Linked DNA regions of Homo sapiens: region 1 is linked to region 2. A link means that fine-mapping ties the variant in region 2 to the expression of a gene that starts in the linked region. Tissue or cell type: tibial artery. Region 2 holds a variant in brackets; the other region holds the start of a gene. All regions are shown on one strand. Distances are between the middles of the regions.

Evidence for each region.
Region 1: ADRA2C starts here. The variant in region 2 is fine-mapped to the expression of ADRA2C in tibial artery (GTEx, PIP above 0.99).

The regions. Positions count from the first base shown.
Region 1 is chr4:3,762,395-3,772,811 of GRCh38, reverse strand. ADRA2C (adrenoceptor alpha 2C) reads right to left here and starts at 6,427. Exons shown (of 1, transcript NM_000683.4): 1 at 4,286-6,427. The coding sequence starts at 6,205. The coding sequence ends at 4,817. RefSeq lists enhancers at 1,269-1,954, 1,955-2,640, 3,327-4,012, 4,205-4,722.
Region 2 is chr4:3,739,307-3,749,723 of GRCh38, reverse strand. No RefSeq gene overlaps it. Among named protein-coding and RNA genes, the nearest start is that of ADRA2C, 22 kb to the left of the region's middle. RefSeq lists enhancers at 18-518, 3,122-3,647, 2,618-3,817 and a silencer at 2,428-2,598. The variant T/A (reference allele first, on the strand shown) is at 4,601.

The DNA of each region.
Region 1 (10,417 bases), 23 kb before region 2:
CCCTGGCCTTGGCAGGAGACACCGCAGCCTATTTACACTGGTGGTCAGGCAGGGCATGCCCCAGGGAGCCTGTCAGATCCCCAGTCTCCCCATCCTCCTCCACTGCCTGCTGCAATCCATGCTCTCCACGGTCCTGCTGGGTCACGGGGGTGCGGACCCCCGGGAGTGGGGCCAGAGGTCCCCTGGCCACTCAAGGGAAACCCGGTGGGAGGACAACGGGGACCTCAAGATGGAAAAGCTTCCCCTGGGCCTTGGAGTCTTAGGCATCTCCCTCCTCTGCTCCTCAGCTCTAGGGACTCTCCTATCTTTGTCAGCCCCCATCTCACATCCATGTCATGACCCTCAGATCCCCCCTGGCACGTAGCGGAGGCTGCCCATGCCTGCCCAGGGACGGTGGAGGCACCTGCATAAAGGGGTACCTGTGGCACTCCGCACAGGGCCCTCCGCACAGGGCTGCTCCTCCCCCACCCCTTGCACGTGGGGGCCACCACGGGCTGACGGGAGTGGGGACATGGAGGGGCCGTGGCTGTCCAACCAGCCTCGAGATGGGCCTGCAGGCGCCGTGTGTTTTGATCCGACACGGCACGGAATATTTGAGCCCTGCCGATGGATGTGATAGAAAAATACAGCCGGCTGCCAGCACAGCCGGGAAGGGCGGCTTCCTCGCCAGCAAGTGCCACGGCAACGTGTTTCCCCCACCCTCCAGCCCCCACCCCCGGAGTCGGGGGCAGGATCCAAAGCCTGGAGCTGCTTCTATAAAGTACTAACATTGCTGCCTGCACCAAGGAATATTTCCTTTTGAATTCCATACTGAGCTGCAATGGAATATTTGGATTCTTTCTTTTCCCTCCTTTCCTACCAACAGCCATAGGATTAAAATACAGGAGTTAATGAAAACATATGCATGTCTATGTATATCTGGTAGGAGCTGCATCTGTGACAGGCTTGGGCCAGGTACACAGGAACCCTGAGCAGGACGGCGTTCGAGCCAGCACCCTCCACACAGGGCAAGCCCTCCTCCGTCGGTAGTGGCTGCTTTATTTTATTTTGCCTGAAATCTCCCAAGAGCCCAACGGGGAGCTCTGCCCAGGAAACCGGTCGTGGAAAACGCTGCTCTGTGGCTTGCTTGGGACGGGGTGAGATCAGAGCCCAGGCTCTCTGCAGAGGGACCTTTCTGAGTCCACAGTTTGCTCTGCCCCCTCACCCCTAGGGGTCCCTGGCCACACAGTCACCTCTAGGCCTCAGTTTCCACAACCACATATGGGGGTTGACATCAGGCCACTCTGGATCCATGAAGTCGGCATGAAGAAGTGAGGCAGGCCCAGGCCTCGTCCGTGGAGAGGAGAGCCACTCAGGAAGTCAGGGGCCGTGGTGGACAGGTCGGCAGAGGGGAGGGCCCTGCTCTGGGCGTTGAGAAGTCCCCTTGGCGGGTGGTTCCTGGGCTGGGTTTGGAGGCACTCGGGGCTCATCTTACCCTCGGGGTGGGTGTCAGTGCCCCCTTCATGGATGAAGACACCAGGACTCAGAGCAAGGTGACACGTGTCCCTGCAGCAGGCAGGGTGAGAAGCCAGGTTTCTGTCTCTGTTTATCCAGCTGAAAAGAAAGTCTCTCCAGGCGGCAACCAAGATCGAGTGGTGAACATCTGCCGGCTGCAGTCCCGGCCATAGCCCTGGAGGGTGTGACTGGCAGGGTCAGGACGGGAAGAGGAGGAAGGTTTGCTGACATTCTTCCCCGAGCGTGTACCAGGCTGCGTGCCCTGCTGTATCCTCGAAGTTAATCTCCCAGGATCCCTGGGTGTGGGGGGGCTGTGGTTATCCCCTTGCAGGGAGGAGGATCTGCAGTTCAGAGGTGACATGCTCAGTCGGCCACACTGCTGAGCAGGTGACAGGGCAGGCTCCAGCCCTGGGAGGTTGCATTTCCTCTGCAGACCTCACAGCCCCCAGGGGGTCAGATCAAAACCTGACACTCTGTCCAAGCACCCTCCCACCAGCTTCTCCCCTGCAGCCTGGCACACGGCCCCTCTGTCCAGCCTCCTGTCTGCATTGTCTCCCCCTCCCCATGCTGGCACCCCATTTCCTAAAACACACTTGCACCTCCTACCTCCAAACCCTTGCTCATCATGCTGTGCCTCCACGTGGGGTCTGCCCTCAGCTGTGGGAAGTTGCCCATTCCTGAAGACCTCCCAGGAGGCAGTAGGAAATGGTGGAGATACTCAAGAAATACTTGTTATCTGGTTGAATTTGGGGCCAGGAAACCTGGGCCCTGTTGGGTCTTATCACCAGCTGTGTGACCTCAGGCAGGTTAATCCACCTCTCTGAGTCCCATGAAATGTACGAGTTATCCCATGAAATGCTGGTGCTCTCAAGGGAAGGGTGCCCTGGGCGGGACTTGGGGTCTTGAGTGCTGGCAGGTGAGGGGTTGGGGGTCTGCCCTCCCGTCTTGCAGTTGTGAGTTTTGGACCCCTCCTGCCGGCTTGGTAAGATGCAGATTCTGGAGCAGAAATCCTGAGCTCTGGAGTCTTTTTCATGTGTGTACAGTGATTCTCTCGCAGCCCAAGGCCTGCCCTCAGAGTGTCCCTGGGTGCGATGTCAGCCATGGAGTCTCTGAGGTGGGGTCTCCTGTGGTCCCAGGCTCAGGGGATAGATTGCCCAACAGATTGGCAGGCCTGGCAGGGCCCAAGAGGGCTCCCAGGACCCCCTCCACTTCCCAGGTGGGGCACCGAGGCCCAGAGAGCAGGGATTTGTCTGAGCCAGTACAACAGCTCCAGGACAAGCTGGGCCAACAGTTCAGGACTCCCTGCCCAGGCCTGGTCGGGGGAGGTCAGGGATGTCCTCATCGGCCTTGACTGGCCATGTTCTCCACCCCTCCCCTGCCCCCACTGCTGTCTGTATCTCCCCACCTGTGTCTGAGACTAGCACACAGCAGGTGTGAGCATTAGCACATGTGCCAGCTGTGGACACGGCTGGGAGAGCTCTTCCCAGCTGGGGTATCCTGAAGACCCATCATCTGGGGTGGAAGCCAGGCAGCTGCGGCGAGGGGGTTCTCCAAGGGCCAACTCTGGCAAGTCAGGTCCCCCTGCTCTGGAACCTGACTTCGCGGACGGGGGCTTGCAGAAGAACACAGGACCCAGGGCTGACCCCTCCCCAGGCAGACCCTGGCCCCCCATGCCAAAGAGAGAGGTGGGTATCCAGGATGGATCTGGGCTGGGCTCAGCAGGCAGGGTCTGGCAGGGGAGGGTACACATAGGGAAGCCCAGGGGGGCCTCCCAGGGATGGGAAGGGGGACGGGAATGGGGAATGGATGGTCACAAGCAGGAGGCCTGACACAGCCCCCACACGCCTACCGAGCTGTCTGTGCGTGTGTGTTGGGGGGACCCCTGCCCAGCTCCTGCCAGGCGCAGGTCCCGCTTTTGCCCCTCCCCTCCAGCCATCCTGGCAACTTCCAGGCCCTGTGACACGGCTGAGTCTGAGTGGTCCCTACACCATGAAGGCCCAGCACCAGGAAGCCCACCTTGGTATTCTGTCCCCCACTTTCCACTGCCCTTCCTCAAGCAGCAGTGTGAACAGTGTGGACACCTGCTGGGCCTGACGGTGGAGCAAGGGGGAAAGGCAGGGCTGCACTGGGAAGACCCTGGGGGCACCACAGGAAACAGGCCGGCCCCAGGCCCCTCTCCAGACATTGCTGGTTTGTTCCACTCCACTGCTCTGGGGCCTCAATGACTTTCAGTTTGTTTCGGAAATAAGAAAGTGCCTGTTGTTCAACCTGGCTCTGGCCAGGCCTCTGGCCTAAGAGTGATGGTGTGGGGGCTTGCCGGCCTCACGCCCACCCTCTCTCCACCCAAGAGCCACGCCCACAAAATGTTCAGAGCCAGGAGGACTAGCTCAAAGCTACTCTCAGTCTTGGACTGGAAGAGCCCCACCTCTTTCCACCGGAGGCCCTGAATATCAGAGTGGGGAAGGGCAGGGGGCAGGGATGGGAATGCAGGGAAGACAGTCCCCCAGAATCTAAACTTGGGGTCAACTTGGGGGTTCTAGGCTCCTTTCACCTCTTCGCTACTCTCAGCACAGGAATTTTGAGTACATATTTTCCATGTACATAAAGGGTTAGCTTGAGAAAAAGCAAGACCCCTCCTTCTCATGCAAGAAGGAAGTTGTAACCCGGAGGCCCAGGGTGCCCTCCGTCCAGCATTGTGGGGTGGGGGAGATGGGGGAGGGTGTCAGGCAGGGTGAGGGTCTGGAAGATACCCCCAGCCCCCAAGCTCAAGGACTGACTGCGGCACCCAACATTAGATTACAAAGGTTTATTTAGAAAATAGTTTGGTTGTTTTGGCTGTTGTTTTTGGCAAACATTTAAATACTTTCAGTAATCAAAGATTGTCGGTGCTTTCTCCTTGCCCCCTGGCAGCCACCCCCCGACTAGGTCCTGGAGAAGTCAGCCCTTGGTCAGACGGGGATGGGGAGTGGTAGTGTCTTTGGGGGGCTCCTTGCTTGCCCATTTAGGGGGCTACCTCTGCCACTGCTCTCTAAAACCCTGACCTCACAGCCACACCTCGGCAGGGCTCCCAGAGCTGGATCCAGGCAGGGAGCCCCAGAAGCAGCCCCTTGCTGAGGGGGGAAGGCAAAGGGGTCTCCCCCTCTCTCCTCCCCACTCCCTGGAGCCCGGCTATCTCTCTGCCAAGCTCCTGCCCTGCCGCACCCTCCCCTGCGCCCTGGAGGCCAATCCATCCCCGGGTCTCTGGGAAAGCTCCCCCGTCCGGGCCGCCCCTTCTGCCCAGCCCCGAGCGCGGAGCTGTCCAGGATTCCCAGACGGGTGCGAGTCACTGCCTGAAGCCCCTTCTCCTCCGTCGGAAGAGGATGTGCTTAAAGGATCGCCGGAAATCCTGGTTGAAGACCGTGTAGATGACCGGGTTGAGCGAGCTGTTGCAGTAGCCGATCCAGAAGAAGAACTTGAAGAGCGGGCCGGGCACCTGGCAGGCCTCGCGGCAGATGCCGTACAGGCTGTAGCTGAAGAAGAAGGGGAACCAGCAGAGCACGAACACGCCCATGACCACAGCCAGCACAAAGGTGAAGCGCTTCTCGCGCGCCTGGGCCACCTTGCGGCGGCACACGCTGCTGCGCGCCCGGCGCCGGCGCGACAGGAAGAACTCGACGGAGCGCGAGCTGGCGCGCGACAGGCGGCCACCGGGCCCCGGGGACCTGGAGGCGGTCAGCGCCCCCGACTCAGCCGCCCCCGGCCCCGCCCCCTGCCCGTCCGCACCGCCCGCGCCCCCCTCCGCGCCCGCTCGCCGCCGCCCGCCCCGCCGCAACGCGCCCCGGCGCCGCCGCCTCTCGGCCGCTGCGCTGCTCTCGTCCGGCTCCACGTCGGCGGGCGGGGGCGCGCAGTGCCCGTTCTCGCCTGCGCCTGCCGCCGCGCCCAGCCCGTTTTCGGTAGTCGGGGACGCACCGTCGGGGCCCACGGGGGCGCGCTTCTCGCTGAGCGTGCGCGTGCGCAGCTTGGCCACTCGGTAGATGCGCGCGTAGACCAGGCCCATGATGAGGCAGGGCGCGAAGAAGGAGCCGATGCAGGAGGACAGGATGTACCAGGTCTCGTCGTTGAGGCCGCACTGCGGGTAGGCGGCGCCGTCGGGCTGGCGGTAGAGCGAGACCAGCGGCGGGAAGGAGATGACGGCCGAGATGAGCCACACGGCCACGATGGTGGCCTTGACGCGGCGTGGTGTGCGCTTCAGGTTGTACTCGACGGCCTGCGTCACCGACCAGTAGCGGTCCAGGCTGATGGCACACAGATGCACGATCGACGAGGTGCAAAACAGCACATCGAGCGCCAGGTACACGCCGCACCACACCTGCCCGAAGTACCAGTAGGCCATGAGCTCGTTGGCCAACGAGAAGGGCATGACCAGCGTGGCCACCAGGATGTCGGCCGAGGCCAGCGACACCAGGAAGAGGTTCTGTGGCGCGCGCAGCGCCCGGCTGGTCAGCACGGCGATCACCACCAGCACGTTGCCCACCACGGTGAAGACGATGAGGAAGCCCACCACGGCAGCCAGCCCTGCCACCGCGCCCGCCGAGTACTGGCCGCGCGGCGGCCCCCAGGAAGCCCCCGAGGCATTGGCAACCCCGCCGCTGCCCCTCTCGCCCGCGCCGCTCGCATTGGGGCCCGCCGCTGCCGCCACCGCCAGCGCCGCCGCCAGCGCCGGGGACGCCATGGTCCTCCCGCGAGCTACGCCGTCCCTCCTGGAGCCGGGGCGCAGCCGCGGCAGCTCGGGCGCCCCCCAGCCGGGGTCGGCGCCCGCATCGCCGCCTGCTGCTCGGGCGCGCCCGCCGGGGACCGCGGCGCCCAGCAGCCGGCCCTCGGCCGTGGTGGCTCCGCGGGCGGCGCGCCGGAGAGCGTGGCTGCCGGGCTCCCCGCAGCTGCCGAGCGTGTAAGTGCAGAGCAGGAGGCGCCCGGAGCGAGCGGCGACGCGGCTGCGGGGGGAGGGGGGCAGGTCCCGGGGTCCTCGCGCGGCCCCGCCCTCGGCCCGGCTCACGGGGAGCGCCCCGGCGTCGAGCCCACGGCGACGCGGCGCCCGAGCGGGCGTGCCTGAGCGGCCCCGCGGTCCCGGAGCCCAGCCGGGGCGCAGGCGACAGGCGGCGGCGGCCCGGGCGCTCCGCCTCCCATCCGGCCGGCTAGGGCTCGGCGCGCCGGGGCGCCGGCCGCCGCTCCTCCGGGCCCCCGCGCCCGCGCGCTCCCTCCGTCTCCAACTTTACTTTCCCGGGCGGGGCGCCGGCGCCGCCGCGAGTCCTCCGGCTGCTCCCGGGCGCGGGCGCCCCCCGCGGTCCACGCTTGGCCGTGCGGCCGCCGCCTCGCTCGCCGGAGCTGCGCCGCCGCCGCCGCCGCCGCCCTGCGCTGGGCGCGAGTGCGGCCGCCTGCGATCGGCTTCCAACTTGGGTCGAGTTGCGCAGCGGGGCGGGCGCGCGGGGCGGGGCGGGCCGCGGGCCCTGGGGAGCTGGCCGGGAACCGGAGCCCGCGGCCGCCTGGTCGAACCTGCCCGCGCGGCGCCGGGGAGGAGTCCGGGGCGGCGGCGCGGGGCGCGCGCTCGGCGAGGGCGCCCCCTCCAGGGCCGCCTGCAGCCTGCGGGACGGGGCCGAGCGGCGGCCGGCCTGGGTGGTGAGTTCCAGAAGCTGCTCTTTCTAAGACTGGAGCCTCCTTCGCCTCCCCCGGCGCAGGCATGGGCGCAGGCGGGGGCGCGCACACGCGCGCGCGCAGCACGGGCGGCTCGGGGTCCATGGCCTGATGGCAGAGCAACCTCTCGCAGCCTGGGGGAGGACGCGACGCTACCTGCGTGCGCACAGGTCCTGCCGAGCTCAGGGTCCGGACCAGATCCTGGATCGGCGCTCCCCGTCAGAGCCACCTCCGCACCCACCCCGGCCTCAGTTCCCTCGGCCCACTTCCCAGCGCTGCTGGAGCATGAATCATAACTAACGGCGGTGTCTGTGGAAGCCCTGGGCAAGCTCCCAAGCTCTGCACCCATGTTAGCAGTGATTGAAGTTTAATCCTTAGGCTCTCAGGCCCTGCTTTTAAAGGATGGAGAGGTGTTCAAAGTCACCACCTCTGACAAACACCCAGAACGGAGCTGCCTGGATGATGGAGCTTTTTGCAAGGGTGGGCTCAGGGGAGAGCGGCCGTTGAGGTAGCCCCCGTGCACCCTCGCCCCCGTCCGCGCACCTCCATTCTGCAGATGTGCACTGCCACGTGCACTGCCACTCTGTGGCCCATGTTGGGTGCTGGCTTCTGCCTCCAGGCAGCCTGGGGTCTGTGGGAGAGGGACTTCCAGGGACGAGGTGATCCAGGAGGAGAGCTGGAGTTCTCAGGCCTGACGTTTCTCTGCTAGGACCGAAGGGACGACCCTTCTCCCAAACGTCCAGAAACGAACCCCAGCTGGCTGGCCTCTCCCTGCATGGGCCCGCAGGAGAGAGGGAGGGAAGGTCTGTCCATCCTGTGGCTAGAACCGGCGGGGAAGGGGCGCTTCTGAGTGCCCGGGAGGTCATCATGAAGAGCGGCTGGAGTGACTGCCCTACCCCCGGGATGCCTATCCATGCCCGTGGCCTGGGGCAGCTTCTCTCTGAGCTCCTGAAGGGCGCCAGCTTTAGCCTCAGAGCCTGTCGTGTTCTCTGCTGCTCAGCCCTACTGGGGAGCATGTCTGTCTCCGCAGAGACACTGCCAGGAGCTACGGCTTCGTTCTTCACCATGTTTGTCACCAGCAGGGCCTGCATTGGGGGTGTGGAGGCCGAGCCAGGGCCCGGCAGAAAGCAAATATTTCAGATGATGGGCCTGCCAAGCAGGGGCGCACGTTGGAGCCAAAGCCTTCTGTGCCAGTCCTGTGCTAGTCTAGGGCACATATGCCCTTCGGGGAGGCAACAGGCCATGGCTGTCCTGTGGGAGGTGTGTGACCTGGGGATGGTGGAGGGTCACCATCCTTACTAAAGGCCCTCCTGGTTCTGGTTGCCTAAAAGGTGCCACCTGTCCAGGGCACCTGGAGGTGCATTTTTCAGGGAAGCCCACACACACCTGCTTCCTTCATGGTCGGCCCGCTGGAGCCCTTGTCTCTATTGAGCCCTCTGCGATGGCAGAGAGTGAGGGGGGCCTGGCCTCAGTTGAGGTGCTCACCATCTGTGGGTGGATGGGGCCACCCACTGAGGTGAATGCGCTGACAACCATCAGTGCCCTGGGGCTCCTCCCCCAGCCTGGGAGCGGGGTTGTCAAGGAAGCCTTCCTGGAGGAGGTGACCAAACTGTGCTTAGAGAGTGAGGAGGTGTTATGAGGAAGGGGGAGGCCTCTGTAGGCTGTCCTTCTTCCAGTGGGAGTGGGCTTTGTACTGGGGGCGTGGGGAGACAGGAGGACTAGGAAAGAGCAGTGGCAGGGGCCAGATGCAGGCTTTGGAGAAGGTCTCTCTCCCTCGGCATCAGCGTGCCTCCCACCCCCATCCTGAAGGGCTCTCTTTTTGAGAAGTGCTTTGGGGGATGCGCAGGGGCATGGGGATCTATCTAGGATCCTGGCTCCTATGTTCCCAAGAGATGGCAGCCCAGGCACGGGAATTTGGAGGGAAAAGGACACGGAGCACCTGGGGCCCTGAGCCAGATGAGCCTCCCACTGCCCAGGAGGGCTGAAGGCAGGGGCCACTCACAGGCCAGGCTGAGGGCATCTGGAGTGCCTGGCCAGTGAGCGGCCCAGGCCCTTGGGGATGGCAGCCAACAGGCTGACATGCTGCTGGCAACACCTCCTGGCATGACCAGGGAGGGGTCAGAAGGGTCCACTCCAGGGCCTGGATGGAGCCAAGGGCAAAAAGCTGGGGCCTGGAGTCATTAGGAGGAGCGAAGCCCTGGGCCATGCATAGGGGTTGCATTGCACGCAGGCCTGCCTGTGGTGGGAGGGCCCGGGACCGCAGCTGTTTGCAAGGAAGCTGGAGAGGACTCTTCCCCCAGACCTTGAAATTAGGCTTGAGGAACTGCTCCGGATTGTCCGTAACAAGCAGAACAGCACGTACCCAGCAAGACTTCCTGTCCTGACGAGGCACGACGCGAGCTGGCACGACCAGGAGGGGCGAGGAAGGAGGGTGCTGGGGGAGTCAGGCTGCACTGGCGGGGGTTGTGGGGGCTGTCTGTGTGTACGTGTGCAGGGGAGTACATGGCAGAAGTGGGCATATTTCAGAGGGGAAACCTACAGGTGTTTCCTAGAACTGAGAACCTAGAAGTGGCACGTCCTGGAGCTGCAGAGGCGAACCTGCCTGTATCTCACCCATGATGCGTGGGGCCTAGGAGGACAGGGTTGGTCCAGCAGGGCCATACAGCCATGGGACATTGGGCCCTGGCTGCTGTGCCGGAGAGAGCTGGGTGCCTGCCTGGGATGCCGCGCTCTAGGCTTCGTGAGCAGCCTCAGCTCGGGTGGAGGGGAGTTTGGCTCCTTGAGCCCCCTCCCTGCACATGCAGGCATGCATGCACATACGCAGATGTACAGTGTCCACACACATATATGTATCCACACACATCCTTGTGCACACATAGATCCATGCACACACATGAATATACATATCATGAATACACGTGTGTTCATGCAAGCATGAACACCCATACATACACATATCCACACATGCATGCAAGCATGCAACCTATTCATGCACACTTGCATGCCTTCACACACACATGCATGCACACATCCACACACACACTGTCTACATATACCATGTGGATTTACAGTGCATCCATGCCTACAGAATATACACACATGTATGCACACATACATGTTCCCACACATGCACACATGCCTGCGTGTGCATACACATGCCCGTGTACTCTTCACATGCAGGTGCATATATACATATGCACTATCATACACACGTGCTTTTTGCACACGTATGTCTACACATGCATATGTATCACAC
Region 2 (10,417 bases):
GAGCAGTCAAATTCATAGAGACAGAGAATAGAAGGGTGGGTGCCAGGGAGGCCCGGGAGTTGTTTAATGGGGACATCTTCTGGTTTACTGAAAACATCCTGGAGAGGTTTGGTGGTGGTGGCTGTGGGACACAGTGTGGATGTACTGAACACTCCGGAACTGGTTTAGATGGTAAATGTTATGTTCTGTGTATTTGACCGCAATTAAATTGTTTTTAATTTTGAAAAAGGAAAGCCTTCTGCATCTCAGGTGGCAACTGGGTGCTGGCTCAAATGCACTCCCTCTGAGCGAGCTTCTGGGGGCTCGCTGATAGCACAGCCACCCCGCCCAGCTCGACCTGGAATGCAAGGGCCCTGGAGCGCTTGTTAGGGATCGCCTATAGCCGAGCTCCACCGGGCGGGCATCCAGGGGATATGAGGGGCCACAGCCTGCCCACTCCACTCGCCCACTGGAGAAAGTCTGCGAAGGGTCAGTGTGGGCAGCTCCCCCTACCCAGGGCGGGGCTCAGTTTGAGGCACCATGCTCCCTGGGCAGTGCTCTGAGCTCTGGGCCCAGCCACCCAGGGCACCAGGCACCAGGGCTGGGCTCCTGCCTCTGCCTGCCCTTTCTGCAGCTGCACTCTGGTCTGGCTTCCCCAGGGGAGCTACAAGGGAGGGTCCCAGACTCTCTGGAGCTTTGGGGACAGCCCCCAGGAATCTGCACAGCAACAGGCTCCCTGGGGGACTGCCATCCAGGTGGGCCGAGAGACCACCGTTTGAGAAGCTGCTTCAGAATTCCCAAAGCTTTGTCCTTTTCTGATTTCACTTCATCCTCACCACAGCCCGGCAAAACAGGTATCAAGACTCCCCTTTAAAAACTTGACAACTTTATTGAGGCATCATTTATAGAGCACACATTTCACTTCGCTGCCGTGACGATCTGATGGAGTCTGGTAAATGCTTTATAAACTGTGAAGTGGTGTGCACACACGGGGGTTCGTTATTACAGCAGATTATAATTGTTATTACTGTACAAGCTTTATTATTATGATGGTGGGGTGTTCTTGCATCATTTATCTCAAGGGTTCCTGGAGGGGTAACTAGGTAGGGGGCATGAGTTGGCCGCTTTGCAAGATTTTTGCAAACAGCAGCGATTTGCTTGCATGCGATGTCTGTGTGCCTCACTTAGACACTTTGGTGGAGAGCAGGGTTTTCGTTGTGTTGTTTTTTTCAACATTTTGTTTGGACATAATTTCAAACAACAGAAAAACTACAAAAATAAAAATAGTACAAGAACAGCATAGACCTTTCACCTGGGCTTAATGACTGCGCCCAGCCTGCCCCATTTATTTTCTCATTGGCTTGCTTGCTGGTGCGCTGCGGGTGACTTTTCTGAACCATTCGGTATTAAGTTGCAAGCATGTATCACACCTCCTTGCCTTTAAAGAGACCCTAGAGACAGACAGCTCTTCCCACATCATCCCTAACTGTGTTAGGATGCGAGCTTGCCATCACAGCCGCATCCTAACACAGTCCTCTCTCCCAGCTGTGTTCCCGTGTTCCCAGCTGACCCCAGAATGTCCTTCACGGCTCTTGTCCTCCAGCACAGGGCCACTCTGGGGTCAGGTGTTGCATTGATGCGTCTTGTCTCTGTGGTTCTCTTTCATCTGGAACATTTCCATGGTTTTGGTCATGTACACTGCTGACATTTGGGAAGAACACGGGGCTTTTTTTTAATAGATGGGTCCTCATTTGGGGTCGTCTGGCAGTTCCTGGGACTGGACGGAGCCTGCACATTTTTGGCTTCAGCGCCACAAGAAAGAGTGTGTGTCTTTCTTGGGCACAGGATGTCCATTCGCCTCTCACTGCTGGTGTTGTTTCTGATGCTGGTGATGTTTCTGATGGAGGAGCTGCGGAGTGATCTGCTGGACAACCGCTCAGTGTTTCCTTCCAGCTCAGGGGCACTCTCGGGGGTCGGGGCGGGGGACGCTTTACCAGCATGGACACGGTCTGCTCCTCACCAGAGCTCCCCCTGGAGGAATGTCCCGTGAACGACGCCGGCCAGAACGTCAGCTTTGGAACCCGGCACTTCCCCGACATTCACCAGTCAGCAGCTGGCCTTCCGCTGAAACAACAGCCCTTCCATCTCACCTATCATCCATCAGTCACCTACCTATCTATCTATCCATCTATTTCTCAATCTGTCGTCTATCAATCAGCTATCTGTGTAATCCATCTACCTACCTATCTACCTACCTGTCACATATCTATCATCTGTCTATCTACCTATCATGTACCTACCTGTCTATCTTCTACACATCATCGACCTATCAATCATCTCTATCTCTCTGGCCATCAATCATCCGTCAGCTACTATAGTATGTTCTTTTGGATCCCCATTTTTTTTTCAAGGATTTGTGATTCATTGCTGTACTTCCATATTTTGGTGCTCAAATGGTTCCAAATTTGGTCAGAAGGCGCCCCTCCGTGCTGGCTCTGGAGTCTGTGACATGCCACCTTTGTTTGCCTGTGTGTGTGCCTCGTTACTTTCTGGCATAACATGATGTTCCAGGCTATTTTTGTACTTTTCTTGCACCAGCCCTAAAATCAGCCACTTCTCTGAGGAGCCCTGGTAATATAATGGGTAATATATTAGCAACCAAGGTCTGGGTATATAATGGGTAATATATTAGCAACCAAGGTCTGGGTATATAATGGGTAATATATTAGCAACCAAGGTCTGGGAGCCAGTGGCAAGGTCTGGGTGCCAGTGTCAAAGATAGAAGGGTTTTAAGCCTTTCAGCCGACAGACCTAAGAGATGCACACAGGCACATCACCCAGAGACACACACACACACACACACACACACACGGACATAAAGACAGGCACACGAGGACACGCGTCTGCACGTGCTCACGCACGCATGCGTGTTTCTGAGAGCATGACTCACGCATGCGTGTTTCTGAGAGCATGACTCACGCATGCGTGTTTCTGAGAGCATGACTCACGCATGCGTGTTTCTGAGAGCATGACTCACGCATGCGTGTTTCTGAGAGCATGACTCACGCATGCGTGTTTCTGAGAGCATGACTCACGCATGCGTGTTTCTGAGAGCATGACGCACGCATGCGTGTTTCTGAGAGCATGACGCACGCATGCGTGTTTCTGAGAGCATGACGCACGCATGCGTGTTTCTGAGAGCATGACGCACGCATGCGTGTTTCTGAGAGCATGACTCACGCTGACGTGCAGTCCCTGCCTGAGGGGTTCTTCCTGGCCCTCCACGTTCCTGATGGTCTGTCTCTTCTTCCAGTGACGTGGATGTGTGACCTGGTGTGCACGGCTGTGCCAGCGCCTGTGATGCCTTTAGTGTGGCCATGTTCATTCCACTACAAGAGTAAAACTCATGCACCAGAGAAGCTGCCCTGGGCCCGTTCGCACTCCCCGCTTACCTTCTGACCTTGCCTGAGGCTGCCGGACAGACACCGTGTTCATGGCTTCTTGGATTAGTTCTTCATTTCTTTTTGGTTTCCACTGTGGCTGTGTTCTTCATTTGAGATGTAATTTGCCCATTTTTCCCGTTTTCTGTCCATTTTATTTTTCCCTTTCTCATACCTCCTGATTTAATATGTAGAACACGAATATGCTTCTGCAAGTCAGAAGTGCAGAAAAGGTGTGCTGGGCTGCCTCCCTGGAGAATCCCTCCCCGCCCCTCCCCCACTCCCTGCAGGAAGCTAATCTAATTGTTGTCTTGTTTATTCTTCCTGTGCTGCTGCTTGTAAAGACAGGCAGTCGTATCTACACTCCGTGCAACAGGCAGCGTACTACTGTGTTGTTTGGCGTGGTGCTTTCTTTCACTTATCAATATCTTCTAGAAGTCTTATAGAAAAAATCAGCAAACTGCGTGAACACACAGTTCCCAAGCAGGGATGTAAAAACGGCCCTTAGCTGCCTGAAAAGGTGTTCAACTTCCTCACAGAAGAGAAATGCAAATTGAAGCCACACCAAGGAAACACTTCTCTGCCATCACATTGGCAAAAATCAAACGTCTGAGGACACACCCTGCCGGCGACGCTGTGGGGAAGGTCGTGGGATTAGAGCAGAGCAGCTCTTACACTTTGCATTTGTGCTTCTTAACTTTGAAAAGTTCTTTGTGTAGTAGAGACATGAGACATGAGCCTTTTCTCTAGGAAGCGAGTTCCAAATATTTTCTCCTGGTTCATTTGTCGTTTCGTTTTGCTTAGTTTTTTCCTTGCATAAGCTGCTTTCATTGGCAATTGTATGAATATTTTCTTTGATTACACCTGGATTTGTAGTCACAGAAAGCCCTTCTTCATTGCTCTTATAGAGGAATTCACAAATGTTTGCTTCTAGCATTTGTATATTTCAGTTTTTTGCATTTAGGACTCCCATCTACTTGGAGTTTATTCTTGGGCATGGTGTGAGAAATGGATCTAATTTTATCTTTTTTGCAAATGGTTTTCCACTTGTCCCAGTACCATTTTATGTGAAATACCAAGACCGTTCTAGTGACTGGAGCGCCCCCTCCTCACACACGGCGTCAGCGGGGGGCCTGTCTCTGTCCCTCCTCTCCCACGGCCCTGTGTATTTTTGTGTCATT[T/A]GGCACTGTTCTCATTAAAGAGGCCCCACTGCGTGCTTTAGCGTCTGATAGGGCTGGCCCCGTTCACCCCGCCCTTCCCTGGCAAGGCTTGTTTATTTTTCCATGTGAACGTTAGTATCAGTTCTAGCTCTCTTTGAAAGAGAAACGCATGGGGTTGTTATTAGAATCGCATTAAATTTATACCCTAAATTAGGGAGAGCTGACATCTCGGTGATGCTGGAACATCCTAACTGTTCTATTTCGGGTTTTTTTTGTGTCTTCAGGAGTGTTTTATGATTGCCTTCGTATAGGTTATGAACACTTATTGTTAAGTTTCTGTTGACGGGTTAGAGAGCACGGGTTTGGCTGTGTGCTGGTTATTCTCTGTGTGCCCCCCAGACACCCCCACCCAGCCTTACCCGTATCCCGTATGGCTGTGTCAAGGGGCGCCCCTGCCCACCAGCTGCTCATCGTGTATGGCTAAGAGGAAGCTCACAGAAAATAATGGGGTGGGGCGAGAGAGATCGGGGTTTTATCCCCAGACCCCTTCTCCCGGTCCTGGGCAGGAGCGCCTGCGTCTCCCTGCCATGGACTGCTGGGCGGCCCGGGCCCTCCTCTGGGGTCTGCCTGCGTCCCTCCTGTCCTCAGGCGTGGGTCAGCCCTGGCTCCCCGGCTACCTACCCCAGGTTCTGCTCTGTCCTTTCCTAGTTCCCCTGACTCTACCCATACCGTAGAGACCGCCCCTTCTTTAAACCCTCTGGGCTCACTCTGCTGGTGTGCGCCCTCTGCTCCCGCCTGGACTCGACTCGCTCTGCTGGTGGGCGCCCTCTGCTCCCACCTGAACTCGACTCGCTCTGCTGGTGTGCGCCCTCTGCTCCCGCCTGGACTCAACTCGCTCTGCTGGTGTGTGCCCTCTGCTCCTGCCTGGACTCTGCCCCAGGCACCTGCCCGGCACCCTCACCTTTTTGGAGAGAGCCCCTTGGGAGCCCACCCTCTTCCCACTCACTGTCCCTTGCCTTGCAAGGAACAGATCCCTCCCCAGCTCTTAAGGCAGCCGCATCAGGAGCGGCACTCACAGCAGACCATCCCCTAGGCCAGAGGGGTCTAGGGTTGGTGCACGGCCCCAGGCAACTCGGGGAGCTTCCATGCGGGGCTTTATCCAGAACTCCCGAAAAGAAGGCATTTCTCCTCACCCTAGAGGGCAGGAGCCGGGCTGTTCTTACCACCGGAAAGCACAAGCCTCCCTCAGACTAAAGCAGAACTGCAAGAAGAGGAGACTCCATCCCAAGAACGGGGTTCGGCTCCTGGATTCCACCACGCCCAGAGCCCGGGATTAACCTCCAGGCTTTTCCATCACATAAGCCAATAAAGTCACTTTTTTGTTTCAGCCAGTTTGGTTTTGTTTCTGTCACTTGCAACCTGGGTCCCCCGACCTGCACAGGCTTCCAGAGGAGTTTTGTACCGTGTGAGCCAGGGTGATGATGGGGAGCCCAAACACGAGGAGGGGCAAGCTGAAACCCATCAGAGAGAGTCCCTGCACCGCAGCTCAGGCCACAGCAGGACCTGTTTCCAGCCCCAAACAAGAGGTGACCTAAGCATCACACCATTCTTGGTTCAAGAGCCCCTCCAACATTGCAGGGGCAGGCCCACCACCTGAAGCCCACCCGCACCCCACCCCTGGGGGCTCAAGTCAAGATTCTGCAGGCCCAGGGCAAGCTGACCAGAGGAGCAGCCCCCAGAACCTGCCAGAATGAGGCTGTGCCTTTGGGGCAGGCTATGCAATGCATATGGTCACCCTCCCATCACTTATCTGCACATGGTCCTGGGAGGCACATCATATCAGCACCTCGATTTTGCAGTTGACAAAACCAAGCCTCAGAGAGGCTGATTGATTTGCCCACGGTCACCCAGAGAAGGCTCCCAGTCTGCCTTGCAGGATGGGCTGGCCAGCAGAAGGGGCGCGAGGCTTTTGCTTGTGGCCAGGGCAGTGCTGCAGGGTGTAGCTTGAACGTGGTCTGGCACAGCCATGAGATGTCACCTTGGTGGGGAGTTGGATGGGGGAAGGTGGCAGTGGAGTGGAGCCAGGCTTGGATGGCCTCAAACACCAGGCAGCTGAAGACTAATCCTAACACTGCCACAACTTGTAAGACTCTGCAACTTGTAAGGTTCTGCCTCCTTGGCTGCTGAGCTGGGTGGGTCTAGGGCTTGAGGAACACAGTGGATCACAAAAATGGCCTCAGCCCTTCACTCTTGAATGAGCTAAACAAATGGTTATTGTAAATTGCTAAATTGGGGCTGTTTGTTACGCAGCAGTAGCTAACTGACACAGGGTGACTGAAGGGGGAAAATAAATGAATGTGGTGACTACAGGGCCTGCATGGCTGGTCTTCTGCTGAACATGATGGTGCAGGGTCCTCACCACTGGGGACTGGCAGCATCCTGTGCCACAGCCTGGTGTGGAGCACATCCACACAGTGCTCCGTGACCCAGCGTCTCCTGCCTGAGGTCCCACCACAGAGAATGAGTCCCTCCAAGCCTGCCTCTGATGCCTGATAGAAGGTAGTCCCACTAGGGGCTCATTTTCTGCTATTGACATCTTGGTGGGATGAGGGGCCCCAGAGCAGGTTTAGATGCACTGGAGGAGCTGAGAGCTCTGGGGGTGTGAAGGGGGAGGAAGGGGATAAAGCTCACCAAGGGCAAATGTGGCAGCCAAATTGGGTCCCCCAGATTTATCCATACCCTGGTACCTGTGAACGTCACATTGCATATAATGTAATTTTGCAAGAAGGATTTTGTAGATGTAATTACAGTTACTAATCAGAGATGTTAAGACAGGGAGATTGTCCTGGATTATCTGGGAGGGCCTGGTCTAAGCACAGAAGGCATTAGAAACAGGGAACTCCATCAGGCTGGAGTCAGGGCAGTGTAGGAGAAGTCAGAGAGATCCAAAGAGTGGGAAAGACTCCACCTGCCACTGCTGGTTGGAAGATGTAAGGACAGTGTGATAGGGGATTCAGGGAGCCTTGCAGGGCTAGGGACAGCCCCACTGGCCATCAGCAAGGGATAGGGACCTCAGTCCTAGGATGGTGTATCATTCGGTTTATCTCCAGATAAACCGAACCCAGAGGTCGTGTGTGTGTGTATGTGTATGTGTGTGTGTGTGTGTGTGTCTGTGTGTGTGTGTGGTTGCAGGGGCTGTCAAGTCCAAAATCCGCACGGCAGGCTGGCAGGCTGGCAGGCTGGGAAGAGTTGTGCTGAAGCTCCAGTCCGAGTCCGTCGGCTGCCGAAATCCTCTCTTCCTCCATAGGGAGTGTGGCCTTTTCTCTGAAAGCCTTCACCTGATCAGATGAGGCCCTCCCACATCCAATCAGGTGAAGCAGATGGCCTGATTTAAATCTTAATCTTTAAGAAAAAAAATTACCTTCACAGCAACATTTAGAATATGGTTTGACTAAATAAATATCTGAGTACCATGGCCCAGCCACGCTGGAGCATAAATTTCACCATTCAAACTCAAGCATCGGGATTCTGCCACACCCTGCACCAGGCCAGAAGCAGGTTCTCACCAAGAGCCTCCAAAGCACAGCCAGGCCCTGGCATCTTGATTCCGGCCTGGTTAAACCTGGAGCAGGGGGACTGGCTGAGCCCGTAGGACTCCGGACCTACACAGCCGTGGGAGGAGAAACATGTGCTTCTCAACACCACGGAGCTTGTGGTCACTGGTTACAGCAGCGTGGGCAGCCCACAGGGTAAGCCCTTGATGGCAGCGGGCCTGCTGGGGTGGAGAAGCGCTCAAGTGGGTGAGATCGAGATGCCACACAGCTGAATCTGGGCATTGTCTTGGGCCTTTTGCCAAGTTCCAAGGTGAGCTGGCGTGAAATCTCTTAGCCAGCAGAGCAGGGAGATCTCTGTGACACTGCGGCTGAGGGAGACCCACCGGCCTCACATCAGGGATGTGCTGGCTGTTTCTCAAAGCCTCCAGTGAATAAGCCACAGTCCACCCCTCCACACTGTCACATGGGACAGCACCTCTTAAGCCATGGTCAGCCTTATCCTGATTGCCCTGGGGTCATTAGTGGCCTGCCACCCCTCACCTGCCCTTCTCACCCCGGGTGCCTCCCCCTCCAGCCTGTCCTCCAAGTGGCTGGGAGCCCAGGTGTGTGGTGCTCCTGGGACCTCCAGCCACAGAACAGGAGCTGTTCCCTCCTCCCCTGCTTCATCCCTCAGGACCCTGCAAAGGACTTTGCTCTAAAACCAGCTTCTGCTAAAGTCATTGATCACCTCAATTTCCTGAGTGAGGTGACATGGCCCTGGGGGATGGGTGACCACCCCAGCACAGGGATGATAGCAGAGACTTGGACCTCCTGATGCCCAAACCCAGCTCTTCCTCCACGGCATGGGGTGGTGCAGATGATGCTGTCATCCCACGTGTTCGTGGCACTTTGATCATTTTGAGGGACAAAAATCCTAAGTGACAGGTCATGAAATTACGGCCAGCATGGTTAATCAGCAGCGGAACTGGCCCCGGCCAGCATGGTTAATCGGCAGCTGAACTGGCCTCGGCCAGCATGGTTGATCGGCGGCGGAACTGGCCTCGGCCAGCGTGGTTGATCAGGGCGGAAGTGGTGTAGGCCAGCGTGGTTGATCGGGGCGGAACTGGCCTCTCTCCCTGTCACTAGCGGCAGAACTCGTCGAGTGGCCTATCGTGCTCTTTGATGAGCGTTTACAGCTGTGGCTTGTGTGACCTCTGATTCTCACGGAGAGGGCCCCGGACGCGCGTGGGGCCCTTCACAGTCTGGCAGTGCTGCTGTGCTGGGTTTCTGGGGGTGGAGGTTCCTCCCACACCCAGGCCACACCTTCTTCCAGCAAAGCGGGGCAGGGGTGCTGTGGGCAGGGTGGGCTTGCTGGCAAACCGCTGTCACATTCGCCCAGATAGCTGTGTTCTCCTCCTCTCCCTACTGGGGACTGGCCACTCCCCCAGGTCCTGGAGGGCCCAAGGACCAGGCTGAGGGAGGGAGGTCTCTTTGCTGAAGCTTGAGGGAGCCTGGGATCCAGGGATCCTGCAGAGCCCACCTGTGCCCAGGTCTGGGGTACAGGTGGCTCCCAGAGGGGAATCCTCAACTAACGGGAAACTGACAAGCTGGCGGGGACTAGAGGGCCACAGAGGCCCATGGGAGTCCCAGGGGTGCCTCACCCCGCCCAGGGAATCCCAAAGACTCCCTGGAGGAGGCCAGGCAGCTGGGCCACCACAGTTGGTCTGTGACTGTGGTTTCAGGGGGAGCATGGTGAGTGCTGCCCACGCACCTCAGCCCGGTGGGATGGCGCCAAGGCCTTGTGGCGCTGGACGAGGTCATCTCAGCTCTGCGCTGTGGAGGGGCCTCTGCCAGCTGCAGGCCACGCCCTCGCCTCATGTCCCTGGGACCTCACATCGCAGCCCCGGGACAGCTGCACCTGCCACAGGCCAGGTCAGGACTGGCCTCATTCCCCCGACCCTCGGTGTCAGGCCTCCAGGGTGGGAGCATGAGGCTGTGCTGGACCCAGAACTGCAGCTGTTGGTGGGGCCAGGTGGAGAGAGGGAGCCCCAGGCAGCCAAGCCTCCTCTCTGTACCCCGAACATATGAGATCCCCAGGGCTGCCATAAAGAGTGCCACAGACTGGGGCCTAAACAACAGAAACAGAAAGATCTCCTCTCCCAGCTCTGGAGGCCGGGAGTCCGGGTCAGGGTGTGGGCAGGTCTGGCTCCCCTCGAGGCTGCGAGGGAAGAATGGTCCCATCCTCTACCCAGCTCCTGGTGGCGCCAGCAGCCGCGGCCGCTCCTTGGCTTGAGGAAGTGACACC